2 separate regions of the Homo sapiens genome follow, and region 1 is linked to region 2. A link means that fine-mapping ties the variant in region 2 to the plasma level of a protein whose gene starts in the linked region. Region 2 holds a variant in brackets. A gene starts in the other region. All regions are shown on their forward strands.

The links. PIP is the chance, under the fine-mapping model, that this variant and not a neighbour inherited with it causes the effect. Protein levels are from antibody-based Olink assays in UK Biobank. Linkage for the fine-mapping came from a reference panel and not from the study's own genotypes, which makes the PIPs less certain.
Region 1: it holds the start of MFAP4, and the variant in region 2 is fine-mapped to the plasma level of the MFAP4 protein (UK Biobank, PIP above 0.99).

Annotation. Positions count from the first base shown.
Region 1 is chr17:19,384,366-19,398,620 of GRCh38, forward strand. It overlaps MFAP4 (microfibril associated protein 4), which reads right to left and starts at 2,825. Exons shown (of 6, transcript NM_002404.3): 1 at 2,785-2,825; 2 at 2,395-2,473; 3 at 1,945-2,099; 4 at 993-1,089; 5 at 734-916; 6 at 1-344. The coding sequence starts at 2,790. The coding sequence ends at 97. RefSeq lists enhancers at 1,113-1,658, 1,659-2,204, 2,205-2,750, 6,741-7,654.
Region 2 is chr3:50,676,542-50,691,905 of GRCh38, forward strand. All of the region lies in intron 1 of DOCK3 (dedicator of cytokinesis 3), which reads left to right. It also overlaps the pseudogene PPIAP69. Among named protein-coding and RNA genes, the nearest start is that of MIR4787, 9.1 kb to the left of the region's middle. The variant G/T (reference allele first, on the strand shown) is at 3,433.

The DNA.
Region 1 (14,255 bases), not on the chromosome of region 2:
GGAATCAGCAGAAGCATGCATCAGGGGCAGCAGAGGGAGCACTCATGGAGACCATGGGTGTCCAGGGGAGGAAAGGTGCCTGAGGGGGCCAGCCCTTCAGGCCCGGCGGATTTTCATCTCAGTGCGTTTGAGGGAGTAGTAGAAGCCCTTCCACTGGGCCCAGTTGATGCCATTGGCATAAGAGAGGTGGGAGCCACCTAGGTAGAAGCCATTGAGGTTGGCAAAGTGGCAGCTGCGGAACCAGAAGGCTCCTGAGGAGAGAGCTGCGCAGTTCTGCACAAAGAGGTCCTGGTCCCGGTCGAAGGTAGAGAACTTCTGGCCACTGTGGTAGGACAGGGAGTCACCTGGCAGAGGAGAGAAGGGTTGGGGCTGCTGAGGCAGGGAACTGAGCCCCGAGCTGGCCGGGAGAGGGTGACAATGACGACTGTGAGAGATATCACGTGGCAGCCTGGCGGGATGGGGGCACCCTCCCTGAGCCAGATGTTGGGTTGATGTGCTTCTGCAATGAAGAGAAACAGCTGCTCCACCACAGAGTTGCCTGGAGCAGGGCCAGGATGGCTGCTCCCCAGGGCTGAGGCCCAAGCTGGTTTGAGCTTGTTTGGAGCCAGCTGTGGCCCTTCCAGATCCAGAAGGGTTGAAGGAGGGGCCTGAAGGAGGTTGGGGCTGACTGGGCAGGGCCAGCCCTGCCTTCTTTCCCCTCACAGCCCCTCCCAAAGCTAACAGCGGGTTATACCTGCCCCGCCATCCTCAAAGCCTGCCACAAAGAGGGTGTAGCCATCCTCCTCTGCGCTGACCGCGTTCGGGGAGATGGAGAAGTCAGCGTACTTGGCATAGGCCGTGTTGTTCTCAAAGTCCTCCAAGTCCACTCGCAGCTCATACTTCTGCTTCAGTGTCAGGAGGTGCATGTTCTGCAGCCCTGGGGAGGAGGGGCAGCTGGTCAACAAGGACCTGGCCCTGGGGCAGCCCCTCAGCCCACCTGGTCCCTGCCTTACCCAGCCAGTACTCTCCATCAGCACGGCCGAAGCCCAGCTTGTAGTCATTCCAGCCGCGGAAGAAACTTACTGAGCCATTGAATCTCTTCTGGAAAACCTGGAGCAGAGAAGATGAGACTGGATCATCAAGGGTCCAATGGGCAAGGTTCTGGTCCTGCCCTGCCCACCTCAAGCATGGACCCTGTGATGCTGTGGCCAGTTTGTTAAAGGACTGGGTTGGGGGTGGGGAGGGTGGTGGGAGTGGGGTTGCTAAAACAACGTCCACATTGGCACCAGGCCCCCTGTGGAGCAGTTGCCAGCACCCACCTGGGCTCTTCATACCCAGTTTCGTATAGAGGCAGGAAAGAGGCTAAGAGGGAGGCGTTCTAGAGTTCGAGTGCCTAGCTGTGGGATCTGGGCAAGTTACTTCACCTCTCTGGGCTTTAGTTCCTCACTACTTCCCAGGATTATTGTGAGGCTTATGTGCATTAACCTACCTCAGCTGGGCGCGGTGGCTCACGCCTGTTATCTCAGCACTTTGGGAGGCTGAGGCGGGCGGATCACCTGAGGTCAGGAGTTCAAGGCCAGCTTGGCCAACATGGTGAAACCTCATCTCTACTAAAAATAAAAAAATTAGCTGGGCATGGTGGCACATGCCTGTAATCCCAGCTACTCGGGAGCCTGAGGCAGGAGAATCTTTTGAACCTGGGAGGTGGAGTTTCCAGCAGTGAGCTGAGATGGAGCCACTGCACTCAAGCCTGGATGACAGAGTGAGGCTCCGCCTCAAAACAAACAAACAAACACCTACCTCAGGCACTTAGAATTAAGCGTTGGCAGCTGCTCAGAAGCTGTGCTGTGGGTATCATTATCCCCATTTTAAAGATGAAGAAACTGAGGTTCGCATATGTGAAGCCCAGGGTCACAGGGCTGGGATTAGAACCAGCTCTGGCCTCTGTTCCCTCCTCCCACTCACCGTCCACTTCCCGCCCTCGGTGGTCATGTCACAGAAGACGGGCACAGGCACACTGGGGCCCGAGGGGTAGATGAGGTACACGCCGTCTGACTGGTAGCCCTGGGCATAGATGTCGTCACAGTCCAGGGGTTGCTGAAGGCAAAACCTCTCCAGAGCTGGGGGTAGGGACATGGGGACAGTGAGGAGAGTGGGACTATGGCATCACTGACACCTCAGCACCCCAAGGTTTGCCTCAGTCCCTGGGGCTGGGGGACTTTGACACAAGGAGTCATGGAAGATTTCTTCAAGGGAGATGAGCAATGCTTATGTCATCCATCTGCCCCATTTTGTAAAGGAGGAACCTGAGTCCTGCAGAGCTGGGGCTCGGCCCTGACAGTCTGTTCTGACAGTCCAGCCTCTTCTTGCACAACCTGTGGGCCAGGCCGCGTCTGTGAGTGTGGGGCTGCTTACCATCTCCTCGGATCCCGGAGACCTGGGGGGCACACGGGGGCGTGGAGAGAAGCAGCAGCAGCGGCAGGGCCAGGAGTGCCTGGCGATGGGCAGACAGGGTCAGCACAGCCCCTTCCCAGCTCCAGAGATCCCCTGTTCTCTTTGCATTTGCCCCCACCATGCATGCACATACTGCCCTTGCCTGAATCCCTCTCCTGCTATTTGGCCCCTCTTCCCTGCCCCCCCACCCCGCCCGCCAAGTAACCCCACTCTCTGGGACGCTGTGTACCCTCATAGCTTACGAGTTTCAAGAGAACTCCTTGTGCCTTCATAGTGCCCTCTGTGGCCAGGGGCCTCTGGAGTGGGCTCAGTTCCCCCATGCTATGAGTCCCCCGACCCTGGGCCCCGTACCTTCATGCTGTCAGTTCTGCTCAGAGTGGCTGGGTGTCTGCGGCCCCAGACTGCAACCGCCCAGAGTTATGCGCTGGGCCCCCGCCAGCCGCCCCAGCCCCGCCCCCCTTCCCGTAGCTGCAGAACCCCCCTCTCCCCACCCCAGACAACCAGCATCAGTTTACACTATCAGGGGGCTGGGAGGTGGGGCTGGAGCCAGGGGACCACCTGTGTCTCATTAGTCCTGTCGGGCAAAGTACTGCAGACGTTAACTCCCTGCTGGCTCCAACTGTTCCCTGGATCCCACTCCATCCGCTATCCGCCATCTGCCACCCACCCTGCTAGACCTGTGGGCCCCCTGGCGCCCCCAGGCAGCCCCAGCCCGCCGCAGCCTGCCCCCTACTTCCTGATGGGCCCCCCTGCAGATGTCTGTTTATTCTTTCCCCTCCTTCCCTGGCCTGTGTTTCATCAGCCATTGAGGGGGAGGGCTGAGGGAGAGTGGGGGTGTCATATGCCTGGCTTCTGGGGACGGGAGGCCTGCTCTGGGGGAGCAGAAGGCTGAGGGGACAGTTTCAGAGCTCCTGATGTGGGAGCCTGGCTGGGGCTGGTGGGGGGACAGAGGCAGCAGTTTCTTGGCAGGCCTGGGACATTTCTGAGCCATGAGCACAAGGCTGCTGGCGTCCAACTGCTCTGTCTGCCCCAGCTCAGGCCAGGGCCCCTCTCCAGTCCCCCTCCCCAGCCCCCCTCACTCTGGCCACCTCAGGCCCACTCTTTTCCCCTCCCACAGTTCCCTGGCCCATCTGGCTCACATGCAATAGGTATGGGACCTCTTTTGTTTCTCCTCACTCCACCCCTCCTTTCTTCTTCCAAACCCTTCACTTTGGCTCCCACACCTCCCAGATTCATCTGAATCTCCCTACTTCTGGGCTCTCTCCTCCTATCCTTGGCACACTACCAGGAGAGTTGTTCTAGATGGCCTCTCAGATTATGTCACCCTGCTTAAAGCCTCATGGCTCCCTATTGCCTCAGGGCTGAGGCTAGGTTTCTCACCTTGGACATGAAAGGAATTTCAAGTCTGTCTCTGGCCTACCTTGAGGACCTTGTCCCTTATTGCTGTGACTCATAAACTACAGTGCAGCCACTCCAGACTTTTCACCATGGAGGTCCCCACTCTTTTGTGCTGCTCCTTGTGGTGCCCGCTCATCTGCCTCCTTTTGTTGGCCATAAGGGCCAGTGAGCAGGGTGTGTGTCTCATTTCTGCATGCTCAGTGCCCATCACAGAGCCTGGCACAGAGTAGGCTTGATATGTACATGCACAGTCACTTACGTATTTATATCTATATATAGATAAGATACTAGAGTCAGGGCCTTGCCCTGTTGCCCAAGTGCAATCATAGCTCACTGCAGCCTCAAGCTCCTGGGCTCAAGTGATCCTCCCACCTCAGCCTCCTAAGGAGCTAGGACTACAGGTGTGCCACCACACCCAGCTAATTTTTTAATTTTTTTGTAGAGATGGGGGGGGTCTCCCTATGTTGCCCAGGCTGGTCTTGAACTGGCCTCAAATGTTCTTCCCACCTTAGTCTCCCAAGAAGCTGGGACTACAGGGCCAGCACACCTGGCTCACAGATATCTTTTGAGCGCTGTGTGCTATAGGCTATGCTGGCTGCTGAGGATACAGTATCTGCCCCACAAGGAGTGGCAAGCACAGGTTTTGGACAGTGAATTGCAAATGTAAGGTGTATTACAAAAGGACATTTGTGTTGAATGGATGAACAGATGAAATATTCAAAGGCAAAGTGATGAGGCAGCTCTGGCTTAGGTCCCATCTCTCCACTCCTGAGTCAATAGATAAGCCCCTTGGCAAAGCCCCAGTTGGCCTCCCTGACTTGGTTCTGTGATTGCCTCTATTCATAGTTGTGTCTTGTGTCAGGCTACCTCAGTTCAAATCTAGATTCTGTTGCCTGTTAGCTGGGTGACCTTGCAAAAATTACCTAGTCTCTCTGTGCCTTGGTTTCCTCCTCTGTAAAATGAGGATAGTCATAGTATCTACTTCATAGGGGTGTGGTAAGGATTAAGTAATACATATCAAGTTCCTAAAACAGTGCCTACAAATGGCAGCTATTTAGTAAATATTAGCTATCGTCATCGTCATCATAAACATCATGATTCTCATATGAATGGGTTGTCTTCAACACAGCTTGTATGCTTGCCTGTGGAAGAGACAGTTGGCTGGCTCTCAATACTCGTTCTTCCCTTAGTCCTCAGTAGTAAGATCCTGATTTTTATCTGGGCTCATTGTCCAGCCTCCCTTGTAGCTAGGTGAGGTCACACATCTGAATTTTGGCCAACAAGATGCCAACAGGTATGTTGTAAAGGTAGGTGGCTTGTCCCTCTTCATCCTGCCCTCTGTCCTGCTGGATGTGATGGCTGGAGCTCTAGCTGCCACCTTGGACAGTGGGGATGAGGAAGATGAGGCCTCATCAGGGAATGGCAGAGGAGGAACTGGCAAAGCCTCTCACGACTTTGTGGAGTCGGTACAAAAACAGCCCTGGACTGCCCTCCTCTAGGCCTTTTTTATGCAGGAGAGAAAGAAACTTCTATGTATTTTAAGTGTCTGTTGTTTTTTTTTCTGTTACACACAGCTGAATCTAATCCTGATCTCTTCTTTCAGCAAATGCCAGCTAATTTTAACACAAGTCTATAAAAGGGAAAATAATGAAAAAAAATCAGTTATCAAAACAAATACTAAAATGGTCCAAAGTCAAGTATTGAAGACTTTTGGAGAATACCACTAATGAGCAAACATAGAAACTCCTTCTCCCCCTAGAAAAGAGAGAATTAAGATACGAGGTATCAATTACATTTTGCCAATTAGTTTTTACTTAAAAAATGCAATAATGTGTGTGGGTGCAGCAAAGCAGGCACTGTGTTCACTGGATGTGGCTGGAAATTAGTTTAACTTTTGTGGTAAAGAAATTTGGTAATAACATGCCCAGAGTCGGTAATCCTTCTAAGGTGTTGTCTGGAGGAAATACTCTGACATGTTGAAGAGGCTACAGATACAGCTGGGGGACATTACTTGTTGGCTGCCCAGCATGGGAAACCTCTTCCCACATTTGGGGTGTTCCTCTCCTAACTAGAATGCTGGGTGTTCACATTTCCAGGGTTCCTTGCAGTTTGATTGAAGGCACATGGCCTTGGTTTAGCTGATAAAATGCACGGTCCTGGGCTTCATTTTGGGAGAAAGTGATTTGAGAAGCAGAAGCAGGAAGAATCCATTCCTGGGGCGATGGTGACCCCAGTGCTGTCTGGGTCCTAGTTTCTCTGGGTGGTTGGTGGTGGCTTGGCAAGCACAGTGCTGAGTGACACTGGCTTAGGCTTAGGCTGCAAAGCCCTGAGCTTGGTTCTCAGCCCTCCCAGTGATCAGTTTGCTCTGCCTGCTGATGTTTTTGAAAGAGACCCCCAACTCACATGCATAAAGATGTTTGTGTCTAGATTCTGTCATTGCCAACAACAGACACTAACTCTGACTTTGTTGGGAGGCTTTGCTGGGAGTCTAGACTAGGGGTGGGTGGGAGCTGAGGCTGCCCTGGGCTCTGGAAAGCAGGCCCTCAGTGGGGGTCCTGTGGTGGGACAATGTTGGGTTGATGCTGCTCAATGCACATGGCTATGGCTTTGTCTGTCTGCCAGATTCCAGGAGTGAGGAGGGTCCATCCCATTGGCCTTGCTTGGGTAATTTTATGCATCCCTTGGCAAGGGGAGTGCAGTTGGACACCTTTCATTTGCCTCCCCACCTTTCTCCCTACTGCCCTGGGCCCCGGAAGGCCAGCCTCACCCTCTGGTTTCTGATTGGGTCCAGCCAATGAGGAGCTTATCAGGATTCAGCGGGAAGGAGAATGAAGTAGGAATATTCATTCCCCTCCTTGTAGAGTCCCCACACACTGGTTTTGTTTCTCAGCCAACAGTCTCAAGTCCTGCCAGGTAGCCATCTCCATACAGCCTCCTGACTCACTGTGGGTGACTCCTTCCTCCTCTGCCCGCTTCAGGTCTAGGGGTGTTGACAGCCCTGGTGTTACCAGCCCAGAGATAGGGGGCCATCTCCTGCTTACACCTCAGCAAATAGTCCTTTTATTAAATGCTACTCAAATTGTCCTAACCTGAGTGTTACTTGATGGAAACTGGACTGATTCAGGGAGAGAGGCATCCCTGACTATAATACAGAAAACGAGTGTGAGACTAGGAGGAGAAGTGGCTGCAAGTGTACAAAAAAGTCTCCACTAAATACCCTCTGTAATAGTCATTGTAATGTATGCTGTAATATTGTCAAACCCAGATGGCTCAGTAAAAACAGATGACCCCCTGTGCTTCCTCGATGTCATTTTGGTAAGACATTTGCTCAAGTTGGTATGGCTTCCGCCCCTGGGTTAGGCCTGTGCTGGTTGTTCTCTGCGTTCCCTGATCCACCCACATCCTCCTCTGTGCCTGGTGTGGGGGCTGCCCTGTAGGGAGGACATCGCTGGGTTTCCATGGCCCCTGGCTTCCAGCTGGGTTTGACTAATGGGAGACACCAGCAGGAGATGGGAGAAGAGAGAGGTTGAAGTATTTCTCCCAGCTCCTGTCCTGATGAGCACTGCAGTTTTGGCCGTAGCTGTGCCCGCTGTCCCTCCCGCCCCTCCCCCCCACCTCCTGATGACATCTCCTGCCATAACCTCCCTCACTGTCTCCAGTAACCCTGTTTCCTCCCCTTGCCCCTTAGGCTGGGATGATGAGGGCTGTCATCCTTGCTAGCCCCAGGATGCCTCAATGCCCCATGTTGGTTTTCTTAATGTTCACACCCAAGTAAATAGTCCCTTCATTAAATTCTCTGAATTAAAAAAAAAAAACCCAAACAGCTGAGTTCACCCTTTGTTTCCTGAGAGGACCCTGACTGACTCAAGGTCTTACTTTGGTTTCCTCTAAAAGCACAGCAGCCTGTGGAGTGGAGCATTTTCTGTTGTTTTGGACAACAGCTAAGGACAAGACCCCTATTCTCTCTGCAGGTGCAGACACCTCCCTGTGTGTCTTGCTGGCAGGCAGCTAGACTGCTCCTTTATCCACCCTCCTGTATCCGGAGCTAGAGAAGCCTGAGGAGAGTTTTTGAAGGAAACTCATCAAAGCAGAGAGCACCTAGGGAGAAGAGATGGTGGGTCCCCCCAACCCAGGCCAAGCAAAGGGGCTCCAAGAAAGAGGAGCTGTGTGCCAGAAGGACAGACTTGGGTTGACAGGCTGAGCTGCCCAAACCCAAGGGCCCTTTCCCAGAGGCCGCTGCTGCAGCAAAGTGAGAACGACTGTTTGGAAGACGGGTGAAGCCTAGGGCTACCCGAGTTGGAGAGGAGAGGGGGCAGGGGCTCGCACAGTCATCATTTGGCAGGACACAGATGTGGTGTTCCGAGTGGGTGCTGTGGAATATGAGGTCAGATTGGAATCAGGCCCATCCTCGTAACCTCATTTTACCTTAACTACCTCTTTAAAGGCTGTATCTCCAAATATAGTTGCATTCCAAGGTAGTGCATGGTACAGCTTCAGTGTGAATGTTGGGGTACACGATTCATCCCATAACAAGCATCTTAGAAGCACCAGGCACTCTTTAACCCTTTATAGGCAACCGTGCACAAGACAGAATCTCCAGCCCTCCTGGAGCTACAGAAGAGAAAGAAAAGTAAAGTGAAATGATAAGTACTATGAAAAATGAAGCAGGAAGGTAGCAGGAGTGGGGCCAAAGTTTGGAACAGGGCATGTCCAGAAGGCCGTAGTGTGGAGATGGTAATGGCAAACTCTGTGTCCAAGGGCAGACACAGACATTTTGTGGTGGGGAACACTCTGTCTTATTTCTGTAACATGGGGGAAGGTTTTAGGAGGGATTTAGTGTCTCTCCCCACCTTTTTATAGTTTGGGACAAGATCAGTTGATGGAGCTCAGGATGTGGCAGAGAGAAGAGGCAGATTAGAGATGGGGAGGGTGTTGAATGTAGGCTAAAACATTTGAACTTGATCCCAAGGGCCTTTGGGATTAGGGTATATTGAGATAATGTAACTTAGGTTCCTGATTTTACTTTGATGTGTAGATGCTACATAACTGGGGAGAAAGCATACAGATTAGAGGTCTTTTTGTGTTTAAATAAACAAATGCATGTGTATAATTGGGATAAGAGGGGTACTTGGAGGCCGTTTATGGAGAAACAGCAGTCCCTAGCCCTGTGTTTGATGAGTCCTGGGGTTGAGTCTTTCATTGTGCTGGCCAGCGAGTGGAGGTTTGTTTCCTTCAGTTCTGAGAAAATTCTTTTCTATTACTTCTTTGGCTATTTCTTTCCTCCCTTTTCTCTGTTCTGTTTGTGATAATTTTATTAGTTGGATATTGAATCTCTTAAATTGATCCTGTATTATATATTTCCCTAAAAATCCTCTGTGCTCTGCCAACCATCTCTTCCTCCCCCTAACCCCCTGGCAACTACTGAACTTTTTAGTGTCTCCATAATTTTATCTTTTCCAGAATGTCATATAGCTGTAATCATATAATAATTTGTAGCCTTTTCAGATTGGCTTCTTTCACTTAGCAATATGCATTTAAGTTTCCTGCATGTCTTCTCACGGTGTGTTAGCTTACTTCTTTTCAACACTGAATAATATGCAATTGTCTGGATGTACCACAGTTTATTTATCCATTCACTTAATAAAGGACATGTTGGTTGCTTCCAGGTTTGGGTGATTATGAATAAAGCTGCTATAAACATCTGTGTACAGGTTTTGTGTGGACATACATTTTCAACTCACTTGGGTAAATACCAAGGAGCATGATTGCTGGATCATATGGTAAGACTATGTTTAGTTTTGTGAAAAACTGCCAAACTATCTTCTGAAGTATCTGTACCATTTTATATTCCTACCAGCAATGAATGATTGCTGTTCCATATCTTTGCCAGCATTTAGTATTGTCGTTATTTTTTACTTTTAGTCTTATATGTATGTAATGATGTCTTGTGATTTTAATTTGAATTATTTAATAGCAAACGATGTTGAACATCTTTTCATGTGCTTGTTTGCCATCTGTATATCTTTTTCAGTGAAAAATCTGTTCATGTCTTTTGCCCATGTTCTTTTATTTTTGAGACAGGGGCTTGCTCTGTCACCCAGGCTGGGTGTAGTGATGCAATCTCAGCTCACTGCAGCCTCAACCTCCTAGGTTCAGGCCATCCTCCCACCTCAGCCTCCCAAGTAGCTGGGACTACAGGCGTGTGCCACCATGCTTGTCTAATTTTTGTATATTTTTTAGAGACGTGGTTTTGCCATGTTGCCCAGGCTGGTCTCTAACTCCTGGACTCAAGCAATCCTCTGGCCTCAGCCTCCCAACGTGCTGGGATTACAGGCATGAGCCACTGCACCCGCTCCCCCAACCCATGTTCTAATTGGACAATTTGCTTTTTTACTGCTGGAGTTTTGAGAGACCTTTATGTATTCTAGATACTAGTGCATTGTCAGCTATGTGGTTTGCAAATATTTTTACCCATTCTGTGGCTTGTCTTTTTATCCTCTTAACAGGGCCAGTCTTTTATAGAGCAAACATTTTAAATTTTGATTAAGTTGAATTAATCAACTTTAATGGATTGTGTTTTTGGTATTATATCTAGCAACTTTTTGCCTAGTCCTAGGTCCCAAAGATCTTCTATTTTTTTCTAGTTTTATAATTTTACATTTAAGTTGGTGATCCACTTTGAGTTAATATTTATAGAAGTCAAGTTCTTTTTTTCCCCCTTCTTTTTGTAGATTCCTTAGGATTTTCTACATAGATAATTAGGTCATCTGCAAATAGGGGAAAGTTTATTTCATCCTTTCCTATTTGTATATCTGTTATCTCCTTTTCTGGTCTTACTGCACTGGCTAGAATTTCTAATCCTGTGTTGAATAAGAATGATGAGAGCAGATATTGCCTCGTTCCTGATTTTAGCAAAAAAGCATCCAAGGCCAGGTGCGGTGGCTCACGCCTGTAATCCCAACACTTTGGGAGGCTGAGGTGGGAGGATCACTTGAGCCCAGGAGATTGAGGCTGCAGTGAGCTGTGATTGCACCACTACACTCCAGCCACGGTGACAGAGTCAGACCCTGTCTCAAAAAAAAAGAAAGCAAGCATTCAGTCTTTCACTGTTAGGAATAATGTTACCTGTAGGTTTTTTGTAGATGCTCTTTATCAAGTTGAGAAATTTCCCCTGTATTCCTACTTTTCTGACAATTTATCATTCATGGGGTGTTGAATTTTTTCAAATACTTTTTCCACATTGATTGATATAATCCTATGGGTTTTCTTCTTTAGCCTATTCACTTGGTGGGTTATATTGATTGATTTTCAAATATCGAACCAATCTCTCATTTCTAGAATAAATTACACTTGGTCATAGTGTAGAATTATTTTTATATTGCTGAATTCTATTTGGTAATATTCTGTTAAGAATTTTTGCACCTATTCATGAGGAATATTAGTCTGAACTTTTTTTTAAGTACCATCTTTGGTTTTGATACAGGGTCATAATAGCTTTGTAATGAATTGGGAAGTATTTCCTTCTCTTTCCTTCCGTTTTCTGGAAGATATTTTATATAACTAGTTTTAATTCTTTTTTTTGTTTGTTTTTTTGAAATAGGATCTTACTCTGTCACCCAGACTGGAGTGCAGTGGTGTGATCATGGCTTCCTGCAGCCTCACCCTCCTGGGCTCAAGCAATCCTCCGTCCTTGGCCTCCCAAAGTGCTGGGATTATCGGCATGAGCCACTGAGCCTGGCCCTGTGTTAATTCTTTTGTAAAAGTTTGGTAGAATTCTTCAGGGAAATCACGTGGGGCTGGAGATTTTTTTTTTTTCCTGAGAAATATTGTGATACATCTTTTAGGCCTCCATGGTTTTTCAAGAGATGTTTGTTGTCATTTAAATTGCTTTCCCCCTGTAAATAAAGCATTTTTGCCTAGGTGCTTTATATATTATTTTCTTAGTTTTTAGTTTTCAGAAATTTATAATGTGTTTTGCCATGAATTTTTGGGAGTTATCCTGATTAGGATTTGGTCACTCCTTTTTTTTTTTTTTTTTTTGAGACAGAGTCTTGCTTTGTCACCCAGGCTGGAAGTGTAGTGGCACAGTCTCGGCTCACTGCAAGCTCTGCCTCCCGGGTTCACACCATTCTCCTGCCTCAGCCTCCTGAGTAGCCAGGACTACAGGCACCTGCCATCACGCCCAGCTAATTTTTTGTATTTTTAGTAGAGACGGGGTTTCACCATGTTGGGGTTTCACCGTGTTAGCCAGGATGGTCTCGATCTCCTGACCTCATGATCCGTCTGCCTCGGCCTCCCAAAGTGCTGGGATTACAGGCGTGAGCCACCGAGCCCGGCTTGCTCACCTTTTTAATCTGTTGTTGGCTTATGTCTCTTGTCAAATTTGGGGAGTTTTCAGCCATTATTGATTTGAGTACTTCTTTTTGCCTCACACTCCTTCTTTCCTCTAAGGACTCCAGTGACACAAATGTTAGATCTTTGTTGTACGATAGTTCCCCAGGTCCATGAGTCTGTTCATATTTTTTCCAGTCTTTTTTCTCTCTTTTGTCAGATTAGGTAGCTCTATTGTTTTGTCTTGGAATTCACTGATTGTTCCCTCTGTCCTCTCCATTCTGCTCTTGAGCCCATCCACTGAGGTTTTTATTTTGATTATTGTATTTTTTGGTTTTAAAGTTTCCATTTGGTTCTTTATAGCTCCTTCTTTTTTTTTTCTTTTACTTTTCTTTCTTTTTTTTTTTTTGCTGAGGCTTTCTATGTTTTCATTTGTTTCAAGTGTGTTTGCAGTTGCTCATTGAAGCATTTTATCACAGCCATTTTAAACCTTTGTCAGCTAATCCTGACATCCCAGTCATCTCAGTGTTGGCATCTATCAGTTATCCTTTGTCATTCAGTTTGAGATTTGCTGGTTCTTTATATGATTAATACTTTTTGATTGAAACGTGGACATTTTGTATTATGTTATGAAACGCTGGGTCTTATTTAAACCTGTTTTTTGTTTGTTTGTTTGTTTGTTTTTTTGAGACTGAGTCTTGCTCTGTCACCCAGGCTGGAGTGCAGTGGCGTAATCTTGGCTCACTGCAACCTCCACCTCCCAGGTTCAAACGATTCTCCTGCCTCAGCCTCCCAAGTAGTTGGGACTACAGGGACATGCTACCATGCCTGGCTAAATTTTGTATTTTTATTAGGTTGGTGCAAAAGTAATTGTGACTTTGCCATTAATGGCAAAAACACTTACTTTTGCATCAACCTGATAGTAGAGATGGGCTTTCACCATGTTGCCCAGGCTGGTCCGGAACTCCTGGCCTCAAGTGATTCACCCACCTTGACTTCCCTAAGTGTTGGGATTACAGGTGTTGGCCACCACACCCAGCCTAAACTTGTTTTAGCTGGCCTCTGACACCCCTCTGGCCGGGAAAGGGGTGGCACTGCCTCAGTACCGCCAGGTGGGGGTAGAAGTCCAGGTTCCTCAGTTTGCTTCTGTTGACACTTAAGAGGGGGATTCCCTGTTACTGTTGGACAGGGTGCAAGTTTCAGCTCCCCACGTGGTCTCCACTAACACTGCAAGGTCAGGGAGAGCACCTGTAATGGCTGGGATGCAAGTCCTGGCTCCTACTTGGCCTTCTCTGTTACCACCCAGCTGGGGATGTTGGGACCCCTCGTTACTGCCTAGTCAGGAGGAGGTCTAGTCTCCCCATTCAGCCTTTGTGGCATGGGTGGGTGGAGCTGCATACTTTCCTGTGGCGTTTGGCTGCAGTAGGGTATTTATTGCCTAGGAATTTTCTGTCTTGCCAGGCCGCCCTTTTCCTGGTCCTTTGGCTACAGATAGCAGGTTTTGTTGAGGGTTTTTTTTTGTAGTGGCTGTTGGCATTTCCAGACTGCCAGCTTCTCCAGTACCCATTCTGGGATAATGAGACAAAAAGAAAGCCTAGGAGAGTCGCCACTGTCCTCAGTCCTGATGTCCCTGGCCCGCCTGCCTTCTTTTCTCCACCTTTCAGAGTCTTCTCATGTTTGTCTTGTACGTGATGTCCCAGGTTTTTAGTTGTACTTAGCAGGAAGTACAGGAAAAAATATACCTACTCCATCTTCCCACAAGTGGAAGTTCCTTAAAAAGAATTATGAGGCCTAAGTTACATAGAGTGACGTAGACCAGTATTTACAAATGTGTACCTGGGAACTACCACCCAGATTCCTAGCACCACAGCAGGCTTCCTGTGAGGAGTGACACATTTTTATTTGCATCTGTAAAAAATTGGGCTGGCTGCCAGGTGGAAAATGGATTGGTGGGAGGCAGGGGAGGGACTGATGGCCTGAGTGTTCTCAGACACCATCATCTGTCCCTGATGGCTCCTGTGGGTGGGGTGGGGTGGCCTGGGCTCCATGGGTCACCACCCTCCTCTTTGGCACTGGGTCATCAGTCAGGGTCA
Region 2 (15,364 bases):
TCCCTGAATACTGAGTTGATTCTGTGAAGTGAGGAGTTGGTGGTTTATCTTCTCCATAACTCGCTCCCAGAACTGCTGAACTAGAATAACAAATAATTGATGTGAGTGGTCAACTCTCCAGTGGCACCCCATGATTGATTTTTTTGGAGGGGGGAGGAGCCCTATTTTGGCGGGGGTGGGGGCGTGGGGGGAGGAGCCCTTGAATAGTGGACAAAGTGGAATTCAGAGTCCTAGCTTCTCTTTACTGGTGGTGTGGGCAAGTAATTTAACATCATTTAACGTCATTTTATTAATGTATAAATTGGGGATAATGTTTACCTATCTTACAGGATTGTGAAAGTGAAATGAGAACGTGCTGAATGCTTAATAGTTTCTTCTTTTCCCTTAGTATTTAGACTAATAACACTAAGTGTGTTCTGAGACAGAGCCAGTGCAAGGTAATCAAGATAGGTACATGTGAATCTCAAAGCACTAGGATTTGGTGTGTGATTTTCCCAGCAAGATGCAACGAAATTCTTGCATTCCTAGGATTGTGTTTTTAGCTTTAGAAAAATTGTTATTCCCTTTGGAGGGCCACAGCATTGGGCTCAGGGCAGAGCTTAATGCTTGCTAAATGAGAGAGACAGTTACACTGAAGACATTTTCATAGCAGCTGTGGTTTAGCATAACTTAGATGCCTTTTCTACCAAACCAAGCAACTCTCTATTTATCTCACAGTCTTCCACTGTCCCTTCCTTAGTTATGATCTAAAAGTTTTTGTGTAAATTGTTTAAAACTCAGGACACATTTTTTTTCATAAGGATGTTAGGGCTACACTTCTAGAACTTTTCATAAAATCCACTTTATAAAGTAGCTTATACATTATACTTATGAGAAAAATAGTCAATTAAAACGGCATTTTTGCTGCATCATTTGATTGCTATGAGGGCTAGCTTGAAAATATAACCATTATCATTTTCCTGTGAGAAAATGTTTGAGTTTCAGCTTTGATTTTTATGACTAACTTGGAGCACAGATTTGTGTCTTTGTTTGTCAACCTATAATCACATAGCAAGGAGGGAAACCCCTTACACTTACTTCCTACCAATTTGGAGAAATTTGTGGAGGAGGGCCTCGAGGGCCTCCTTTTGCCCTGATGTTAGTGAGGGAAGGAGTCCCCTGTTGCAGCAGTACAAAGGGTTTTTTCCACTGCAGCTGTTCATTTGTATTTGACATTGATAAGGCTTTGAGATCCTGTAGTAATACTTATTAAATTTTTTATAATATAGGAATTCTGTACAGGTTATAACATGACTGAATTGTTTGGTTTATTCATTTAGGATGAGGTGATGACTGAGCCCCCCTTTCCATTGTAATATTCTGTGAGTGATTTTAGGCAGTGGGGAGGACATTATCCTTTCTGAGGGTCAGTGATAGGCCTGTCAGTGTGCCTGGGACTCTCACTTAGGTAACCCCATGTCGATTCCCAGAGTAGTCTTAATGTTATCATTATTACACAGATAAAGAAACTGGATCCCAAAGGTTGTTAATTTTTTTTTTTTTGTCCTTCAACGATTGTATATTTTTCTTAATTTTCTTCTTGGCAGTGGGCAGTATTTTGTGAAATACTTGACTGTCTTGCTTTCTTTTTGTGGTACTGTAAGGTACTGTTCTTTACTGTACCCGTTCGCCCGTGTTTTGACTTCTTATGTCCCTTTCCCTCTTAGAGAATCTCTGCTTTCCTTTCTGTTGCCATGAATGCTTGGAAAGTCCTGCATCCTTCCATTCTTTATTCTACCTTTCCAAGAAGCTTCCTGCTCTAAAGTGTATTAGGTGAGAAAAATCCAGCTATTTTTGTGAAACACCTGTCTTTCCCTATACTGACTGTACCCAGAGTACCAAATATAGAATACAAAAACCAAGAAAATGCTTTTCTCACCCTCTAACAGGAGCAACAGCAGGAGCAGCAAGCACCAACAGTTTTTAAAACAAAAATGTTTGTAATTACACTCCTTGAATAGAAAAGTGGTAAAGGTTTGAGTACATAGGTATTAGTTTGACGTCTTAGAAGTGGAAGCTGCTTCAGAAGGTCATCTTGTTTATTCTGCTGCTGTCATTAGGCAATTTTTTTTTTTTGAGAGGTGGGGTCCTGCTCTTGTCATCCAGGCTGGAGTGCAGCGGCATGATCATAGCTTACTGCAGCCTTGAACTCCTGGGCTCAAGCGATCCCCCTGCAGCAGTCTCCCAAGTAGCTGGGACTACAGGTGTTTACTACCTTGCCTGCCTAATTTTTTTTTTTCTTTTTTTGAGACGGAGTCTTGCTCTGTCGTCCAGGCTGGAGTGCAGTGGCGTGATCTCGGCTCACTGCAAGCTCTGCCTCCCAGGTTCATGCCATTCTCCTGCCTCAGCCTCCCGAGTAGCTGGGACTACAGGTGCCCGCCACCATGCCCGGCTAATTTTGTTTTTGTATTTTTAGTAGAGATGAGGTTTCACCATGTTAGCCAGGAGGGCCTCAATCTCCTGACCTTGTGATCCGCTCGCCTCGGCCTCCCGAAGTGCTGGGATTACAGGCATGAACCACTGCGCCCAGCCTTGCCTGGCTAATTTTTAAATTTTAATTAAAAAAAATTTTTTTTAGTGACATGGTCTTGCTATGTTGCCCAGGCTTGTCTCAAACTGCTGGCTTCAAGCTATCCTCCCACCTCAGCCTCCCAAGTCACTGGGATTATACCTGTGAGCCACTGTGCCCAGCTAAGGCAAATTTTTGAGTAATTTAGGGCATTTATTGCTTATTTTTTATTAATCCCTCTTAGTAGAACATGAAAAATTTTTCTCATTACCAATCTGAAGACCTTACATTTTAGTTTTGTAATGTTATATTTATTTTTTCCTATTTAAAAAGTAATGCGTATTTTATGCATTATTTTTACCTAACTTCCTTTTGGTTAGGTTTCTCCAGATAGGGAAGAAAAGCACTTAAAAACAAACAAACAAACAAACAAACAAATCCTGAGTCCTTAAAAGAAACTTGTAAAGATCCTGTGGTGCAGGAAAAGAATCTGAAGGTGGGGAGGAAATAGATCCTTGAAACCAGATCTGGAAGAATTAGTGTTCACAAAATTTGAGTAAATCTGTTGGTAAATGGACTAGAACTCACCAAAATAGTCTGAAGACAGTGTGCTCTTTAGTTATTTATTCAGTGAGGGAAGCCCAACCTTTGCAACCTCTGGAAGGGCCCCAATACCCCTTTAGAGGTAAAGACATCATCCACTAGGGGTAGGAAAGATTTCATAGACCTATGACTTTATTTTGTTCTGAAAAGTGAGGATGTGCTTGATGTCTTGTTTAGTGTTTATGGGGAACTTCCTTATTCATGATTCTACTTGAGCTTTACACTATATCACCACCTCTCCCCTCTTTTTTAAACAGATGAGAAAGAAGCTTTAGCTGAGA[G/T]AAATTAAGTAACTGATCTAAGATACTTTAGATAGTAAGTGCTGAGTTGAGATTTGAACCTAGGACTTTGAGATTCTAAGCCACAGATTGTATTATTACACCGTGTCCTCTGAAAGGAATTGTCAGTAGTATATGACTGTGGCTTGAAAGATAAGACATACTCTGCAGTTTTCAATTTAAACTGGATAGTTATATTTAAGGAATTTTATTTCTGTATTGGACTATTTTTTTCTTTTTCTTTCTTTTTTTTTTTTTTTAGACAGAGTCTTGCCGTGATGCCCAGGTTGGAGTGCAATGGGGTGATCTCGGCTCACTGCAACCTTCGCTTCCTGGGTTCAAGCGATTCTTCTGTCTCAGCCTTCTGAGTAGCTGGGATTACAGGTGTGCGCCGCCACACCTGGCTAATTCTTTTCTATTTTTAGTAGAGACGGGGTTTCACCATATTGGCCAGGCCGGTCTCGAGCTCCTGACCTCAAGTGATCTGCCCGTCTTGACCTCTCAAAGTGCTGGGATTACAGGCATGAGCCACCGTGCCCTGCTTTTTTTTTTTTTTTTTTTTTTTTAAGACGAGGTCTTGCTATGTCACCCAGGCTTGTGTGCTATGGCATGATCGTAGCTCATGGTAACCTTGAACTCCTGGGCTCAAGCCATCCTCTCCAGTAGCTAGGACAACAGGTCCATGCCACCATGCCCAGCGAATTTTTAATTTTTTTTTTTTATAGAGACTGGGTCTTGCTATTTTACTCAGGCTGGTCTTGAGCTCCTGGCCTCAAGAGACCCTCCCTCCTGGGGAGTGGCGGGTTTACAGGTATGAGCCACTGTGCCCAGCCTGTTGCCTACTTTTTAATGGGATTATTTGGTTTTGCTGCTGAGTTCCTTGTATATTCTGTATATTAGTCCCTTATCAGATAAATAGTTTGCAAATATTTTCTCCCATTCTGTAGATTGTCTCTTTACTCTTTTTCCTTTGCTGTGCAGAAGCTTTTAGTTTAATGTAGCCCCATTTGTCTATTTTTGTTTTTGTGGCCTGTGCTTTTGAGGTCTTAGTCATAAAATCTTTGCCTAGACCAATGTCCTGAAGCATTTTCCCTATGTTTTCTTTTAGTAGGTTTATAGTTTTGGGTCTTATGTTTAAGTTTTTAATCATCTTAAGTCTATTCAGTAGACTTCAGATTTCTAGTTCGTTTTATCATGCAGTATTAGAATATGATTTAGAAACATTAAGCTAAATTGTAAACATGGCACCTATTTCTGTGTAGTATTAGATGCATTCTGAAGCAGGGCAGTCTCAAAAGAATGGTCATTGAGGTTGAAAGTACTTTAACCTTCATAGCATATTTTTACATTGGTGCTAAATTTTAATTTTTAATAGTTTGTATTTTGAATTTTTTAAAATTTTTGTGTCTTTATTCTTTAAGAATGATCTGAAATTATTCCCAACATGTAAGCATTATTGGGTATGCTATATTAGGATTTTAATTCCAATGTTATGCTTTTATTGTAATGAACAAGCCAAACCTGTTTATGATTATGCATTTAATTGTTTTGCATACCCCCTTTTGACAGCTTTTGCAGGGAGAAGCAAGCATTTTTTTCACATAAAGGCTCTTAAAACCTTAAATTTTTTTTATACATCACCAAATTATTTTAGCTAAGTACTTGCAGTTGATTTGCTATATCACACCTTAGGGATACTCTAGTAAAGATAATTACTATGTTGGGAAATGTCATTCAGAAGCTTCCCATTTTCCTGCTTATCTACAATGGAATAAAATCCCATCCTCCTACTTTAATATGATTCTCCCTCTCCCTTCGGAACTCATTCATGAGCTCTTGCTAATAAGTGAGAACCAACATGATAGAAGAATTAGAGTGTGATAAACACAGAACTTGATAGTACTGATTTAGTACCATACCTTCAACAGATATGTATTTGGCCTATATTCAAACATATCTATTGCCAATGCCCTCACCACTTTTTGGGACAGCCCATTTTATTGTTAGCTGTAATGAGAACATTCTTCCTTATTGAGTAGACTAATGACTCCCTGTAGTTTCTTATAAGTCCTTGTTCTGTGCCTTCATATAAATAACTTGCATCATAGCTCTTCAGTAAGTCATAAACTTTAGAACTCTAAGAAATCTTAGAGATAATATGGTTTAAGGCCCCAGAGCTAAGACTAGTTGGAACAGCTAGCATTCATGGTTTATCATGTATCCAGCACTTTCATGTTATGGTTCAAATTTGCATGTTCAGCCTCATCCACTGACTTGTTAATACTTTACACTTTAGCCAAACTGAACTTTCTCCAGGTTCTTCTGTTTGTACTTAACTCATAACTAGTGCCGCCATGTCCCAGGACCATTAAACACATATTTGCTGCATCATGTCTTTGTTCATATTGTTCCTTCTACACAGAGTGCCTTTCCCCCATGTCTTCATTTCTTAAATTATTTCCAGCCTGCCAAGACTTCTCTCATATATTGTTATCTCTGTAAATCCTTTCCTAGATTCTTGGCCCTACCCCTCTCTTTCTCCAACCAGATATATTTTATTCTGTTAAATCCTGTTATACTTTGTATTTTGTAGTGGTATATTTACTTTATCCTCTTCATTAGACTAATGTCTTTCCAACTTTTGACTATGACCTACAATAAAAAATACATTTAAAATTCTTATTTGGGCCAGGCACAGTGGCTTATGTCGGTATTCCCAACACTTTGGGAGGCCTAGGTGGGTGGATCACTTGAGGTCAGGAGTTTGAGACCAGCCTGGTCAACATAGTGAAACCCTGCCTCTACTAAAAATATAAAAATTAGCCGGGCATGGTGGCGCACGCCTGTAATTCCAGCTGCTCGGAAGGCTGAGGCAGGAGAATTGCTTGAACCTGGGAGGCGGAGGTTGTAGTGAGCTGAGATCGCGCCATTGCGCTCCAGCCTGGGTGACAGAGTAAGACTCTGTGATCCTCCCAAAGTGTTGGGATTACAGGCGTGAGCCACCGCGCCTGGTCTATCTTTGCATTCTTGGCAGACGCACCTCAGAACCAGGCATGCAGAAGGTTTTACACACGTATTTGTAGCATTGAATTGGACATTTTTATTAATGTGGTATAAAGACTGCTTTTTGGAGACTTCTGAGGTGCCATTTCACACTAATTGCTCATACTGAATTTATAACAACTCTAGGTTTTATTTTATATGAACTGAAGTCAAGCTATATCCCCTCCATCCTGAACTTGTGTGATTGATATTAAACAGAAATGTAAAATTTTAGTTTCATTTAAAAAGTATTTTATATTTCCGTTAACATTAACACTGTATTTAGCTCATGAGTACAACCTGTCAAATCTTTTTGAAGCTTAAGTTTGTGATCCAAGATATTACTATATTTTCTTTGGACCTTTACGCAATTGATAAGCCTGTCTTCTATGTTTTTCCAAGTGGCTAATAAAAATGTTGGACAGGAGAGGAAGAAAATTTTATTGTCCTAGAGGGGAATTATGTCTAGTGTATAAACAAGTAGTGTCTGCAGTGTTGTGATTTGAATGCAGATTATCTGTATGAACATTTTATGATAGTGCCAGCCGTACCACCTTTGTGAACTTGATAATGTTTGGGGTTAGGATGGGCTCCTTAGCCTTAGTTCATGGCTATGGTGTTTTAACAAGGGGGAAAGATGCTGCTAAAAAGTCTGTATGGACTTACTAAAGCATGGGGAGTGAGAAAGAAATATCAGCATTGAAAAGATGTTAACTTCATTTTCATCTTCCTGTACAGGAGGAAGGGTGGCACTAAACTTTTCTCAGAGTTTTGTTTCTGACATTCTCTCCACATTTTTTCTCCCCTCCCCTCCCCGCTCTCCTCCCCCCCCCCCACCCACTCCCTCTCCCCTCTCCTCTTGGCTGGTCTTGAACTCCTGACCTCAAGTGATCTGCCTGCCTTGACCTCCCAAAGTGTTGGGATTACAGGCGTGAGCCACCATGCCGGGTCTCTCTCCACATTTTCTATACTCTAGATATGCTGGACAACTCACCCTTTTCCAGACAGGACTATAATGTTCTTACCTTTATTGCTTTACTCAGGGTGTTGTTATATCATTGGAATCCCATGATTCCCTTTCTCTGCTTGGGGAATGTTAACTGAAAAAGCTCAAATGTCATCTCTTTTTTATGCCTTTCCCTACTCTGCCTGATATAAATAAGCATTGCTGCTTCTACTGCAGTTGGTACCAACCTCTAGTATGTCATTTATCCTTCTAGATCATGCTTAATTTCATCTCTGCCTCAGGGACTGAGTTTCTTGAGGATAAGGAACTTTGTCTTCATGTTTGTATCATCAGGACCTAGTTCATGGTGAGTGACTGGTGAATGCTTAATTAAGATTCCAACCTAGTGAAGAATTTTATTTTGTTTTATTAATCCTGATGGTATTTTAAAAGGCAGGCTGTAAACCTAATAATATTTGATTGTTAGAAATTTGTGACATCATGAGTGTACTTTTTTTCCCTTGGCCTTTCTCTTTCTTGAGCCTGTTAGAGAGGCTTAGTGCCTGTGGCTAAGTTCAGATGACAGATTTTGAGTGGGAGCCTTAGGATTCCAGTATGAATCCCTCTCTCTCACCTACAGTTTCACAGTCATCACAACAGTGATCCACAAATCTTACAGCAGGTAACTGGGATGCAGTTTGAACTTATCCCGACAATACTTCTTTTGTTTGACATCTTTGGGGAATGCTGTGTTTTGGATGAGTGACTTTTCCAGGGAACTCAAGGTTAAACCTTTAAGAGCACCAAGAAGAGATTTTGTCTATTTCTGTTAGAATTTTTTCTAAAATATGACTTATCTAGTCTTTTCTATATTGTGAATTCAGTATCTTGAATACATTTGAGCTTTTTATTTTCCTATGTAACATTTCCTTCTGATTACATAACGTATATATCATTACAGAAATGTCAGTAAATACAAAAAAAATACAAAAAAGAACATAAAGGTGATGTCTTATTTTCATTACCCAGACAACCCCTTTCAACATATTGTCATATCTTTTTAGTTTTTTTTTTATTGTATATACATTTAAGTAGGCATTTAAAATAAATTTGGAACCATACTGCTTATATTGTCTTATAATCTACTTTTATTTTAAATCTATTATACTTTGAACATGTTCTAATATCTGGATTCTTCACTCTTTTAAGACTGCCGTTCTGTAATACAGATATACTATCCTTTACTTTCCTACTTTTGAGCAGTTGGTTGTTTGAAATTAGCTGTTGCCAGATTGTCCTCCAGGACAGTGAGGGTACTTGTTTTCTGCATTTTTGTTATAATAGGGCATTATTTCCTCCACAGACTTGCATTTTGAAAAATTTCAAAATTGATACATGCTTGAGAGCAATAAATCCTCTCTTTACAAAAGTAAAAGGTCCCCTACTACCAGTTCCACTTCTTGAGTATCAGTTGTTTAACTGAGTTTCTAGTGATTTGACATTATTAATACAAAAAAGTGATTATGACGGTTATGATGTTAATACAGGGATATTTGTTTCTTCCTCACTGACATCTATAGGAAAATTGCTAGTTCCAGTGAGTGTATGCTTCAGGATGAAGTTCTCATCAGATCTCCTTGTAGCTGGACTTGCCACACCATTATGGCATGTTAAGTCACCACTCTGACACAAAAACCCTGGAATAATTATATGAAAGCTGGAACCCTTATTATCAAATCCTTTTTCTCCAGTGGTTAGAGCATGGAAGTTTTCTGCTGTCTTTGGAACTTTGTCTGCAAACAGCTCAAAGGAGACGTGGCTCAAGGGCTGTCCATGGCCTAGAACATGGTGGGGTTGACGGTGGCTGGTGGCAGGGAGCTTTGGGGGGCAGTGGTGTCTCCAAAGCCTTGCCCATTTTCTAATTGAGTTGTTTGGTTTTTTGTTGTTTTGTAGGAGTTCTTTATATTTTTTGGATATTAATCCTTTATACAGCAGTCTCTAAGCTTTTCGACACCAGGGACTGGTTTTGTGGAAGGTAGTTTTTCCATGGACAGGATGAGGGGATGGTTTCAGGATGATTCAAGTGCATTACATTTATTGTGTACTTTATTTCTATTTTTATTACATTGTAATATATAATGAAATAATTATACAACTCACCATGATGTAGAATCAATGGGAGCCCTGAACTTGTTTTCCTGCAACTAGATGGTCCCATCTGGGGGTGACGGAAGGCAGTGACACCAGAAGTGTGTTGCTTATGTCCAGTCAATGCCTTAATCTCGCTTTGGTTGCCATCACTGCAGAAAACTCTGCTGCACAAAAATAGGATGTTGGAAATGGAAGCAGGCTTTTCAGTGCTTTTGTGGCAATCTCAGGATATTCCGCCTTGACTCTAATCCAGAATGTATGGAGATTTGAAGTTGTCCCAAACATACCATTAAGGCTGTTGTCATTTGTGATCTCAAGCAGTTGATCCTCTTCTAGCATGCACAAAGTCAATTCACCTGGTTTATTCACAGATTGGTCGTGGATCTATTCCTTCCCAGTTTGGGGGTCTTTTGTGGTTTGGAAGTAATGCTCAGACTCTTTTGAAAGCTGAGATACGTGATCATGCACCAGCTGGGAGAAAGAAGGCCCTGGCTCAGTCTCTTGTAAAATCTCTGCTCGCCAAGCATGGTGGCTCACACCTATAATCTCAGCACTTTCGGAGGCTGAGGCAGGTGGATCACCTGAGGTCAGGAGTTTGAGACTAGCCTGGCCATCATGGTGAAACCCCATCTCTACTAAAAATACAAAAATTAGCTGGGCGTGGTGGCACGCACCTATAATCCCAGCTACTGGGGAGGCTGAGGCAGGAGAATCGTTTGAACCTGGGAGGTGGAGGTTGCAGTGAGCCAAAATCACACCACTACACTCTAGCCTGGGCAACAGAGCAAGACTCCATCTCAAAAAAAAAAAAAAAAAAATGCCGGGCACAGTGGCTCACTCCTGTAATCCCAGCACTTTGGGAGGCCAAGGTGGGAGGATCACTTGAGGTTAGGAGTTTGAGACCAGCCTGGCCAACATGGTGAAACCCCATCGCTACTAAAAATACAGAAATTAGCTGGGCATGGTGGCAGATGCCTGTAATCCCAGCTACTCGGGAGGCTGAGGCTGAGGCAAGAGAATCACTTGAACCCGGGAGGTGGAGGTTGCAGTGGGCTGAGATCATGCCACTGCACTCCAGCCTGGGCAACAGGGTGAGAGTCCATCACAGAAAAAAAAAAAGAAAAAAAAATCTCTGCTAAATCCCAGTGTTGACTCATCGCCCTCATTATTCCAGTTTGGCTTCGAATGCAGCCACTTTATCTGGTGATTTGAACACAGTTGTTGTTCTCCCTTGAAGTGACAGATTGAGCAGGTTGAATATGTCACACAAGTAAGCAGTTTGTGACCCATTCTGCGTCACTGAAATGTGCTGCCAGTAGTGACTGACTGTTTTTCTAAAAGAAATCACTGGAGCTGCTTTCATAACTCAAAAACTCTGGCCAGTGATCTACCTTTAGAAAGTCATCTCACTTCTGTGTGTAAGAGAAGACATGTATGCTCTGCGTCCATTTCCTCACAGAGCTGTGCAAATAGAATGAGCTAAGGGCATGTACTTTAATGTGGTTGATAATTTTAATCACATCCTGTAAAATGTTGTTAAGTTCAGGCGACATTTTTTGTCATTTTTTGACACCGTGCATAGACTTACATTCTGAAGTGACCTCTTTGACCTGAGTAGTGAAATTAGAAAGCTGTCCAGTCATGGCAGCCATTCCATCTATGCATATACTGACACAAAATGACCAGTTTAGTTTTCCTGATATGTAATCATTCAAAGACTTGAATAGTTCTGCAGCTGTGGTGCTAGTTGGCAACAAAGGTGCACACAACATATCCTCATGTGCATCCTCCTGAAAATATATCGCACAAAAGCAAGCACTGTTGCCTTGTCAACATTGCTGGACTTGTCAACCTGGATTGCATACTACAGTGACTCAATCCTCTCTTACAATTGTACCTCAATATCTTCTGCTATTTTATTTATTTGTCTAATTATAGTACTAGCCGAAAGAGGAACATGTGCCACATTTTGAACTGCAGCCTCTCCTAAAAGTTCATGACAAATGTCCTCAGCAGCAGGCAGGATCAACTCTTCACCAATAGTAAAGGGCTTCTTAGTTTTAGCGATGTGGTTAGCCACTAAGAATGTGTCTCAAGTGCAGACACATTTGATGAAGTGGTGGCCTTCAATAATTGCTTCTGTTCTTAGTGTTTCATTTTTTTTCTTTTGAAAAACTCCAAAGGCTTGTCTTTTAATGCAGGGTGCTTGGTCTCCATGTGGTGAGACAGTTTTGAAGGTTTCATGGCTTTGTTGGATAACCGGTTGCCACATTTTATACAAAGCACTTGGAGAATGTGAATCATTTGTTGCAATGAACCCGTAATTTAAGTAGGACTCTTGGTATTTTCATTAATTAATTAATTATTTTGTGAGATGGAGTCTTGCTCTGTTGCCCAGGCTGGCGTGCAGTGGTGCAATCTCGGCTCGCTGCAACCTCTGCCTCCTGGGTTCAAGCGATTCTCCTGGCTCAGCCTCCTGAGTAGCTGGGATTATAGGCGCATGCCACCAAGCCTGACTAATTTTTGTATTTTTAGTAGAGACAGAGTTTCACCATGTTGGCTAGGCTGGTCTCAAACTCCTGACCTCAGGTGATCCCACCCACCTTGGCCTCTTAAAGTGCTGGGATTACAGGTATGAGCCACCATGCCTGGCCGGTATTTTCTTTTAAATGCAGCTTTCTTTATTGTTGGCATTCTTAGAATGTCTTAGAGTCTTCTGCTGTCTCATCATTGAGTCTTCCCCCCTTTTCAAAGAAGCTCTCCAGTGATGTTTGTTTTTTACTCATTTTGCCTAGAGCTAGCTTGTGGGCTTACCAAAACTGTGACTGAGACAAGTGCACCATGTGGGAAAGAGGCATGGACTGTAAATAAAATAATGCGTGGGCTATTCGAGGAGTAAATTAAGTGTCGGATTGTGACTTAAAGCCTGCCACCAGATACAGCTGTGTTAAGTACATTAACTCACTTGCCACTGTAAAGCGTGCCATCTGATGCAGCTTAATTGTCACTTGCCACTCACTGATAGGGTTTCAGATGAGTCTGCAAGCAATTGATTGTCAAACCTCTCTGCTAATGTTAATCTGTATTTGCAGCTGCTTCCCAGTACCAGCATCATTGCCTCAGCTTCACCTCGGATCATCAGTGTATTAGTCTGTACTCACGGTGCTAATAAAGACATACCTGAGACTGGATGATTTATAAAGGAAAGAGGTTTAATTGACTTATAGTTCAACATGCCTGGGGAGGCCTCAGGAAACTTACAATCATGGCAGAAGGGGAAGCAAACATGTCCTTCTTCACATGGCAACAGCAAGGAGAAGTGCCAAGCAAAAGGGGGAAAAGCCCCTTGTGAAACCATGAGATCTTGTGAGAACTCACCATCACATCTTCATGAGAATGGCAGCATGGGGGTAACCAGTCCCATGATTCAATTACCTCCCACCAGGTCCCTCCCACGACACATGGGGGATTATGGAAGATATAATTCAAGATACGATTTGGGTAGGGACACAGCCAAACCATATCAGCCAGGCATTAGATTCTCATAAGGAGCATGCAACCTAGATCCCTTGCATGCACAGTTCACAACAGGGTTCGTCTAATGCTGCTGCTGATCTGACAGGAGGCGGAGCTCAGGTGGTAATGTGAGCAGTGGGGAGTGGCTGTAAATACATATCGTTGAAGCTTTGCTTCTTTACCCACTGCTCACCTCCTGCTGTGTGGCCTGGTTCCTAACGGGGATAAAGCAGGGTTGGGGAGCCCTGCTTTATCAGATAGGTGACTTGGAAATATTTCTCCCATTCTGTGGTTGTCTTTTCACTCACTTGGTGGTGTCTCTAGATGTACAAAAATTTTAAATTTTGATGAAGTCCAATTTATCTGTTTTTTTTCTTTTGTTTGTACTTGTGGTGTCATGCTACGAAACTGTTGCCAAAGTCAGGATCATGAAGCTTTTCCCCTATGGTTGTTTATAATTTATTTTTATTGTGGCAAAACGTACGTAACATAAAATTTGCTATTTTTACCTTTTTTTTTTTTTTTGGAGACAAGGTCTTGCTCTCTCTCCCAGGCTGGAGTGCAGTGATGCAGTTATAGTTCACTGTAGTCTCAAACTCTTGGGCTCAAGTGATCCTCTGCCTCAGCCTCACCAGTAGCTAGTACTATAGGCATGTGCCACCATGCCTGGCTGATTTTTTAAATTTTTTGTATGGATGGGGTCTTGCCATGTTGCCTAGGCTGGTCTCAAACCCTTGGCCTCAAGAGACCCTTCTACCTTGGCCTCCCAGAAAGCTGGAGTTACAGGCATGAGCCATTGTGCCCTGCCCATTTTGAAGTATATAGTTCCATGGCATTAAGTATGTTCACATTGTTGTGTAACTGTCATCCACTGTCTATCTCTGGAATTTTTTCGTCATCCCATACTGAAATTCTACACCAGTTAAATGAAAACTCTTTATTCCCCCTCACCCCCAACCCCTGGCAACTACTGTTCTACATTCATTCATTCGTTCGTTCGTTCATTCATTCATTCATTCATTCATTCATTATTTTGAGACAGAATCTCGCTGTGTTGCCCAGGCTGGAGTGCAGTGGTGTGATCTCGGCTCACTGCAACCTCTGCCTCCTGGGTTCAAGTGATTCTCCTGCCTCAGCCTCCCGAGTAGCTGGGACTACAGGCAGGCACCACCATGCCTGGCTAATTTTTGTATTCTTAGTAGAGATGGGGTTTCACTATGTTCGCCAAGCTGGTCTCAAACTCCTGACTTCGTGATCCACCCACCTCGGCTTCCCAAAGTGCTGGGATTACATGTATGAGCCACTGTGCCTGGCCTCTACTTCCTATCTCCGTGATTTTGACTATTCTAGATAACTCATATAAATGTAATCATATGGCCGGGCGCGGTGGCTCATGCCTGTAATCCCAGCACTTTGGGAGGCTGAGGCAGGTGGATCACGAGGTCAGGAGATCGAGACCATCCTGGCTAACACGGTGAAACCTCGTCTCTACTAAAAATACAAAAAAAATTAGCCAGGTGTGGTGGCGGGCACCTGTAGTCCCAGCTACTTGGGAGGCTGAGGCAGGAGAATGGAATGAAACCAGGAGGCGGAGCTTGCAGTGAGCCGAGATCGCATCACTGCACTCCAGCCTGGGTGACAGAGCGAGACTCTGTCTCAAAAAAAAAAAAAAAAAAGTAATCATACAATGTTTGTCCTTTTGTGTCTGGCATATTTCACTTAGCATGAGGTCTTCAGGGTTTATCCATGGTGTAGTCTATGTTAGAACTTCGTTCCTTCTTATGTCTGAATGATGTTTCAGTGTATGGGTATACCACATTTTGTTTATTCCTTCTTCTGCTGATGGACACTTGGGTTGTTTCTACCTTTTAGCTATTGTAAATAATGCTGCAGTGAACACTGGCATGCTAGTACTTGTTAAGCTCCCTGTTTTCTATTTCTTTGGGTATATACCAAGAAGTGGAATTGCTGAACAATATGATAATTCTGTCTTTAGTGTTTTTAGGAGCTAGTGTACTGTTTTCTGTAGTGGCTGTGCTATACATTCCCACCAGCAGTGCACAAGGATTCTAGTTCCTCTGCATCCTCCCCAATACTTGTTGTTTTCTGATTTTTGATCATAGCCTTTCAAATAGATGTGAAGTGGTGTCTCATTGTGGTTTTGATTTGTATTTCCCTAATGATTAGTGATGTTGAGAATCTTCTCATGTGCTTATTGGCCATTTGTATGTCTTTTTTGGAAAAATGTCTGTTCGAATCCTTTGCCCATTTTAAAAGTCA